Linked DNA regions of Homo sapiens. The protein of the gene in region 1 purifies or fractionates together with the protein of each later gene. This does not show direct contact. Each region holds a gene or a part of one and is shown in the gene's direction. Other genes may lie near its edges. The genes, in order: ZNF316 and ZNF346.

What was found.
Region 2: the proteins of ZNF316 (region 1) and ZNF346 purify together in Homo sapiens (co-immunoprecipitation; one large-scale study listed by IntAct). This does not show direct contact.

The regions. Positions count from the first base shown.
Region 1 is NC_000007.14:6,635,675-6,640,199, forward strand, and holds the start of ZNF316 (zinc finger protein 316), read left to right. Parts: upstream 1-1,643; 5' UTR 1,644-1,773; intron 1,774-2,171; 5' UTR 2,172-2,335; intron 2,336-3,367; 5' UTR 3,368-3,467; intron 3,468-4,525. UniProt on the Homo sapiens protein: May be involved in transcriptional regulation.
Region 2 is NC_000005.10:177,043,087-177,046,892, forward strand, and holds part of ZNF346 (zinc finger protein 346), read left to right. Parts: intron 1-640; exon of another isoform or gene 641-1,130; coding exon of another isoform or gene 1,131-1,133; intron 1,134-1,302; coding exon 1,303-1,447; intron 1,448-3,806.

The DNA.
Region 1 (4,525 bases):
AAGCTGGTTACTTCTCAGGCCCTACTGGCTGGTGCCCTGCAAACCAGGGGCCTTGTGTTGCCAGAACTTCTGATTTTTCAGATTTTATTTATTATTAGAGACAGGGTTTCAATCTGTTGCCCAGGCTGGAGTGGAGTGGTGCTATCATAGCTCACTGCAGCCTCAACCTCCTGGGCTCAAGCAATCCTCCCACCTTGTTTTCCCAAAGTGCTGGGATTACAGGTGTGACCCGCCTCGGCCCCCCAGAGTGCTTAATTTATAGGTGTGAGACCCCGCATTAGAACCTGATTTTTCAATTTTATTTTTTAAACAAGAATGGGACTCCTTATTTTAAAATGTTATTAACTTTAAGACATTTTAAGACACCAAGAGCCAAGCGACATCACTGTGAGGGTCTGATTCAAGGGGTTGGGGCTGCACCCCTCTGTGGGACTAAGGTTTGAGTCCTCCTCTATCTTATTATTATTTTGAGACAGAGTCTCACCTTGTCGCCCAGGCTGGCGTGCAGTGGTGTGATCTCGGCTCACTGCACCCTCTGCCTCCCGGCTTCAAACGATTCTCCTGCCTCAGCCTCCCAAGCAGCTGGGACTACAGGGGTGCGCTACCACGGCCGGCTAATTTTTGTATTTTTAGTAGAGATGGGGTTTCACCCACCATGTTAGCCAAGCTAGTCTCGAACTCCTGACCTCGTGATCCGCCCGCCAAGACCTCCCAAAGTGCTAGGATTACAGACACCGTGCCTGGCCGAGTCCTCCTCTATCTCTTGCCCAGTCAGGCCTGGGGTCCCCACAGAAAAGCACCAAGAACAGTGGTGCAGGCGGGCTGGGAGCTGGGGAAGGGGCCCAGGCCACACCATTCCAGGCGGAAGACAGACCCTGGACTCCACCAATGCCAGAGCTCATCCTGACACCCCAGCTGCACCTCTTGGGAGCAGGTGCAGACAGGCTTGTGGGTGGGGGTCTGGGGGTGGCCGCTGAGCTCACCGACCCCTCCCTGGGTTCCTGGGGTCGCCTGTCACTTCTGCCCCCACACTGGCCATGCCCTCTGCCTGGACATCGCTTCCCTGCCCGTGACCCCATGTCCCTCCAAGTGCGGGCTCCACAACCCCAGTCTCCTCCTGCACTCAACCGCCACAGTCCACCCATAAGACGTTCACCCCGCCCGTCCCTCCTCCCTCCCCACCCACAAGACGTTCACCCCGCGCGGGCCCGGGGATCTGGTGGAGGCGTGGACACCTGGCCCCCTCCCCACCACAGGGGTCGCCTCCTCCCTCCACCATCCTGGGGTCCCGGGCAGGCTCCGTGGACTGGCGGAGGGGGCCCAGCGCGGGGCCTGGTCCTCAGCGGGCGCCCCGATGAACGAGGCCGGGCTGGGGTTCGGGGAAGGCGGTGGTCGCAGCGGCGGGACCTCGGGGTCACCTCCGAGACCTGGCCAGGGTGTCCAGGAGCGGGGCGAGGTTGTGGGCGCCCCACGAGTGTCGAGGGCGCTCCCGTCCCCTCCCCGCATGCCCCGTCCTCGCCCCGGCCCGAGGCCCAGCTGGGCAAACCCCCGCAACCCGCGCTTCCCCGCTCCGCGCCGCTGCCCCCGCGTGACCGGAAGTTCCTCCCCCCGCGGGCGCGGGCGGGGCGGGGCCGGCCGGCGGTACTTCCGGTGCCCACGCGCCGCCGTCGCGCAGCTCCCGGGCCGTCACTTTGTGTAGCGCGGGGTCCGCCGCCGGCCCGCAGGCCCCGGCCCCGGTGTCCGGCCCGTGGCTCGGCCAGCCCGGCCCGCGCGGTGAGTGGGTCTCGCGGGGCCGGTGGGCGGCGGCGCGGGCGGCAGGTGCGGGCGGGCCGGGCTTGCGCTCGGGGGCGGCGGCGGCGGCGGGGCCGGGCTGGCCCTCGACGCCCGGCGCGGGGAGGCCGCGGGGAGGCGGCGGGGCCGGGGCCTGCAGAGTCGGAGCGGAACGCGGGTAGGGACTTCCGCGGCAGCGCCCCCGCCTCCCGGACCCCCGTCCGGGCCTGCGCGTTGCCGACCCCCGGGGCCGGTCCGGGCAGGAGGCGGAGGGGGCAGGCCCGGGAGGCCACGCGTGACACCTCGGGGTGCCCGCCCACGCCTTCTCGGCCGCAGCGGCAGGGGCTGGGCCGCGGCCGCCCCCAGGACACACCCATCCAGGAGGGGCTGTCATCGTCTAGGTCTCTGCAGGAGGAGGCGGCTCCGGACGCCCCCTGGGGGGCGGGAGGCGCTCGGCCCGTCGCCCCAGGAGCCCGCTTTGTGACCTTGGGGGCCTTATCCGGGCTTTCCCTCATCTGCAGAAGGAGCCCCGGTGGGCTGCTCGGCTGTCTTCTGCTGCCGGCAGGTAGGTAGGGACACCCATCCCTGGGATTGGATGGGGTCTGGGCTGTCCCGCGTGGCAGCAGAGGTAGGAAAGGGGCTGGGCTTTGGTCGAGGACCCGATGGGCAAGAGGAAGTGCAGGTACCAGGAGGATCAGGCCCCCAGCTCTGCTTGTGTGGGGAGACCTCGGTGCTTGGTTTGGTTCAACAAGTGTGGGCAGGTCTGGGGGCCGGGTGGGGTGGTGAGGGGGCTACCCTGGGGAACCTGAGATGGCCCCCGTGGAAATAACCTGCACCAGGAGCAAACCCAGGAAAGTAGGGGGATCCAGAATCCGAGGACAGACAGTGAGGACTGTGGTGGTCGGGGAAGGAAGTCCTTCAGGAGGGCATGAAGACCCGAAGGGCTCTGAGGGCAGCGGGGGCCACCCAGAGGGAATGAAGGGGGCTAGACACAAGCACACCCCCACATCTCCCGCTCTCTGAGTTGGGTTTCCCTGGCTTTGGAGCTTTTGTGAGGAGTTTCTATCAACTTTCAAGCTTTGCCTCTTCTTCCTGCCCTTGCCTCGCTCCCTTCTCCTCTTGGGAGATACCTTGTCACCTCCCATTCTAAATGTTGGCTGCAGCACCGTATCCTAGAGTGCAGGGCCCTAGTAGAAATGAGGGTTTGGGGCCGGGTGAGGTGGCTCACGCCTGTAATCCCAGCACTTTGTGAGGTCGAGGCGGGTGGATCACCTGAGGTGGGGAGTTTGAGAAATGAGGGTTTGGGATGACGTTGGTGAAGCTCCCTGTGGCCTCTGGTTTGGGATTGATGCTGATGAGACCCCCTGTGGCCTCTGACCCAGAGTTGGATGCCGAGGGAGAAGTGAGCAGTGTTTACAGTGGACTGGCAGGCTGGCAAGAAGAGGGCAAGAGTGCAGGCCTGGGGGAGGCAGAGATAACCCAGGGGGAGTTGCTGGAATCTAAACTCTGCCCGGACTGCTGAGGTCCGTTTTTCAAACCATTATGTTCTGAATCTTGGGTTGGGGACGATGTCTGGCTGTGCTTCTGACCTCTGTAGGAGCTGGTCCTCCACCTTCTCTGGTCATCCGTGGGTGGACTTCTTGGGAGAAAGAACTCAGTGTCGTCTTTGGAGGCAGAGACTCTCCACTGCTTCTGGGGTGAGTTCCAATTCCAAGGGTCCCCCCAACCCCCTACCCCCAGCAGTGGTCAGTCTGTTCTGGAACAGGACAGTAGGGCCAAAATGCTGAGTTTGAAAAATCCTGTGTCCATCACATTGGCTGGCGACTTTAGACATTCTTTTAGTAAGTATTTGAATGCTTCTTAAGTGCTGGTGTGAGGGGTATTCAGACATGAGCAAAGGGAGCTTCTGCCGCCCAGGAGCTGGCTGTACTCAGGGAGAGAGATGATAAGACAGTCTCATAAGTGTATTTTTAAGATGTGGTGAGTGCTGTGAGGGAAGAATTACAGGGAACTGTGTCACCCACTGGGGCCCAGGGGGCTGCCTCAGAAGACCACCCAGGAAAAGGGGAAGAGAGTTCTGGGGATGGGGAATAACACACACACGGCCTGAGATGAGATGAACATGCAGCCACTTTATTCCAAAGCTGTGAAGTGTTCTTCTGTTGTGTCCTCATATATGGCGGCCTGGCTCTGGGAGTTTAAAGTTGCTGCTTCAGGTGGTGGCCAGGCAGGAGACAGCTCTACTGAGCTTGGCATGGCACCTAGGCCCAGCCTGAATCTGCGGCCTGAGGCTTGAAAGAGAAAAGCCCTCCTCTGGGCCTCAAGTGGGTGGCAGTTGGGAAACCGTTGCTGCGTGTACCCAGCGCCCTGAGTGCTGGGCAGGGCCGTGTCCTCCTGGAGGTGGCTAGCATAACACGCAGCACGTGGATTTCGACACTTTGGGCATCTTCACACGCCAAAGAGCTGTGGACACTGAGAAGGTTGGCTTCTGGGAGAGGCTGGAGGTTGGGGTGGCGCTCCCAGGCGTAGTTCTGTGACTTGAGTCTTTGGGGGTTAGTGATTCTGAAACTAGAAAGGGGGCTGGAGCCAGTCAGGGGGCACGTGTGACCTTCGGGACAGAGGTGGCTTCTGGATGCCTGTGTGTCCCAGCCTTTGACTTGGGTGAGCCTGTGTGAATGCTCAGAGCTTCCTGGCTATTAAAGTGTGGATTTTAAAGCAACTGCTCAAAGCAGTTCAGGAAATGAGTACGCGCGGC
Region 2 (3,806 bases), on another chromosome or scaffold:
AGTGATCTGCCTGCCTCAGCCTCCCAAAGTGCTGGGATTACAAGTGTGAGCCACTGCGCCCAGCCGCCTGGCTGATTTTTTAAAAAATTTTTCGTAGAGACAGGGTCTCGCTTTGTTGCCCAGGCTGGTCTCAAATTCCTGGTCTCAAGTGATCCTCCCACCTCAGGCTCCCAAAGTACCAGGATTACAGGTATGAGCCACCACACCTGGCCCTTTTCTCACAATTTATAATTCAGAAAGGCAAGATAAACTCTATGACCCTGGGCAAGTTATTTTACATATTTGCACCCTATTCAGAGATCAGGCTTTCTGAGAGAGATGCTGGGATCCCTTTATGTAGTCTTGAAATACATGGTTTCCTAGCCTAATCATAATCAACAAGTAGAACGCAATGGGAGGCTGGGTGCGGTGGCTCATACCTGTAATCCTAGCAATTTAGGTGGCTGAGGCAGGCGGATTGCTTGAGCTTGGGAATTCGAGACCACCCTAGGCAATATGGTGAAACCCCGTCTCTATAAAAAATACAAAAATTAGCCGGGTGTGGTGGCATATTCCTGTAGTCTGGCTACTTGCAGGGGTGGGTGGGAGAATTGCTTGAGCCCTGGAGGTGGAGGTTGCAGTGAGCCGAGATCGTGCCACTGCACTCCAGCCTGGGCAACAGAGTGAGACCCTGTCTTAAAAAAAAAAAACCTAATGGTCCACTTGTTCAGCAAACTCTGAGCATCTACTGTGTGCCAGACTCCAGCTGGGTGTGAAGGATAAGAAACAAAAATGAGTCAAATAGTCCGTGTTCCAATGTCACACTTGAGTTCACAGAAAAGTCTCCTAAGCTATGACACTGTCAGTTTAGGGTGGCAAGTGGTATGACAGAGGTCTATTTAATGTACTCTGGGAGCACAGAAGAGGAGCAGGGTTAATTCTTCCTGGAATACACAAAGGGACTTGACAGTTGTTTACTGAATGATGTTTTTTTTTTTTTGAGAGAAAGTCCCCCAGAGGAAAAGCTTATATTTAAATTGGGTCTTGAAGGCTAAGCAGACACGCTGCCAAGCAGGAAAGGAAGGAAGCACATTTTAGACAGCAGGAATGGCCAAAGCAAAGCAAGGAAGCATCAGAGAATAAAGTGGGGGATGGTGAGTAGAGTCTGGGACAAAGTAGCTGGAGAAGAATCTAGAAAGTAGGTTGGGGTTAATGTGTGAGGGGGGCCATAAATGCCTGTTCTGTTATGGGCAGTGGGGAACCATTGAAGATTTTCTGGTGGGGCAGTGGTATGATCAGACCTGTGTTCTTTCTTCCAACCAGAAGAGCAGCAGAAGCAAAGACAAGAACCAGTGCTGCCCCATCTGTAACATGACCTTTTCCTCCCCTGTCGTGGCCCAGTCGCACTACCTGGGGAAGACCCACGCAAAGAACTTAAAGCTGAAGCAGCAGTCCACTAAGGTGGAAGGTACTGGTTTTCCTGAGTAGTGCTATAGTGGGACCCCTGCCGTCCTCAGGGCACTACTGCCAGGGGCTCACAGAGATCCTCACTGAGGCCACAGACTTGAAGAAGTTGAATTGCTTTTGAGAACCCTTAAAAATCTCCAAGTAGACCCAGCTTCACTGAAATGCAATCTCAGAATTATGCTCACCTAACCTCCCTTTCTTTGGTTATAGGTTTTTCTCTATAGGCTGAGCTTTTGTCCTGACTAATAATTATAACTCAGGAGTGCCAAAGTCCTCCAGGCCACGCATACCATGAGAGCATTCTATCTCCTACCTCTCCCACTAGATTTTTCCATCCCAGCATCCACCTGCCCTTATTACTGCATGTTCCAAGTTGAAAGCTAAATCCTTGTCTTTTTCACATGCTCAGGTTATGGCCTACTCACTTTAATCCTCAAAAGCTGCCTGTTCTCCTCAAGACAGGGACTTGCCTTTCAAAGCTGAATACTTCAGTGCTGCTACTACTGCCCCACAATCTGTAACTGCCATGAATTCATTCCCAGTACAGTGACTTCTGAAATAGCCCCCTTTATCTCGTCACGACTAGGGCTCAGCCCTCACTTTCATCTCATTAACTCCTGACTTTCTGGGGTTTTAACCTCTGCTAATTGCAATTAGTCAAGAGTGAAAGTTCTTTGATGTTTATTTCATTGTTTTCTTGATAATTTTTGCTTCTCTATTTTGGACCAAGAAGTAGACTACACTATTAGTAATACTATTATCCTTTTTGTGTTTACTGACAACTGTGTTTTGGAAGCCTTCAAAGGTAGGGTGAAAAATCACTCATAATTTTTTTTTTTTGAGATGGAGTCTCGCTCTGTTGCCTAGGTTAGAGTGCAGTGGCATGATCTCGGCTCACTGCAAGCTCTACCTCCCAGGTTCATGCCATTCTTCAGCCTCAGCCTCCCAAGTAGCTGGGACTACAGGTGCCCACCACCATGCCCAGCTAATTTTTTTGTATTTTTTAGTAGAAACGGGGTTTCACTGTGTTAGCCAGGATGGTCTCAAACTCCTGACCTCGTGATCCACCTGCCTCGGCCTCCCAAAGTGTTAGGAATACAGGCATAAGCCACCACGCCGGCCAAAACCTTTTTTTTTAAATAGAGATGGCTTCTCACTATATTGCTCAGGCTGGTCTTGAACTCCTGGCCTTAAGTGATACTCCCATCTCAGCTTCCCAGAGTGCTGGGATTACAGGCATGAGCCACCACACCTGGCCACTCATAATTACACCTTTTTATCACACCCACATCTAGTTATTCATGGTATGAAACAGCAGAATGTGGACTTTGAAGTCACAGAGTCCCAGGTTTAAAGCCTGGCACTGTTACTGTTTATATGACTTTTTTGTGTCTGAACTGCCTAACCTATAAAATGATAATAATACTGTCTACTTCATCGGTTGTGAGGATACAATAATGTGTATTAAAAACACAGGACATAGGCCGGGCATGGTGGCTCATGCCTGTTGTAATCCCAGCACTTTGGGAGGCTGAGGTGGGCAGATCACTTGAAGTCAGGAGTTCAAGACCAGCCTGGTCAACACGGTGAAACCCAATCTCTACTAAAAATAACAAAAATTAGCTGGGTGTGGTGGCACGAGCCTGTAGTCCCAGCTTCTTGGGAGACTGAGGCAAGAGAATCGCTTGAACCCGGGAGCTGGAGGTTGCAGTGAGCTGAGATCGCACCATTGTACACCAGCCTGGGGGACAGAGCAAGACCTCGTCTCAAAAAAAAAAAAAAAAAAACCAATTTTATAAGGTCACAGACTTCTCTTCCCACAAATGGGAAAATTCTCTGCATTATGCCTTGTCCCTGAAATTTCATACTCGAGATTATTTTCCATATTCACTTTCAGCTTTTGCCACATACTTTGTTTTTATATAGTTGTGATCATAATGCAGGTACCCTTTATATCCCGCTTTTACTTTTCATTTAATTTTACAGCTTAAGCACATTTCCATGTTATTACACAACTTTATAACTATATTTCTGAAATTAAACACTTTTTAATGTAAAGTAATATAATCATGTTGTAAGAGATAAGGAAAACATGGATAAATGGAAAGAAAAGTTACCCATAATTTTACCATTCACAGATAAACACTGTTAACATTTTGGTTTCTCCTATAATCTGTTTCTCCTATAATCTTATTGTTATATGTATCTTTGTATATCTGTGTGTATATTCGTTTTGTGTATATCTAGGTTAACTCCGTGTATATGTGCATATAAACATAGACTACTTTAAATAACTTTCATGTTTTTATAAAAACAATGCATACTCATTATGAATAATTCCACTTCAAACAATTGCAAAA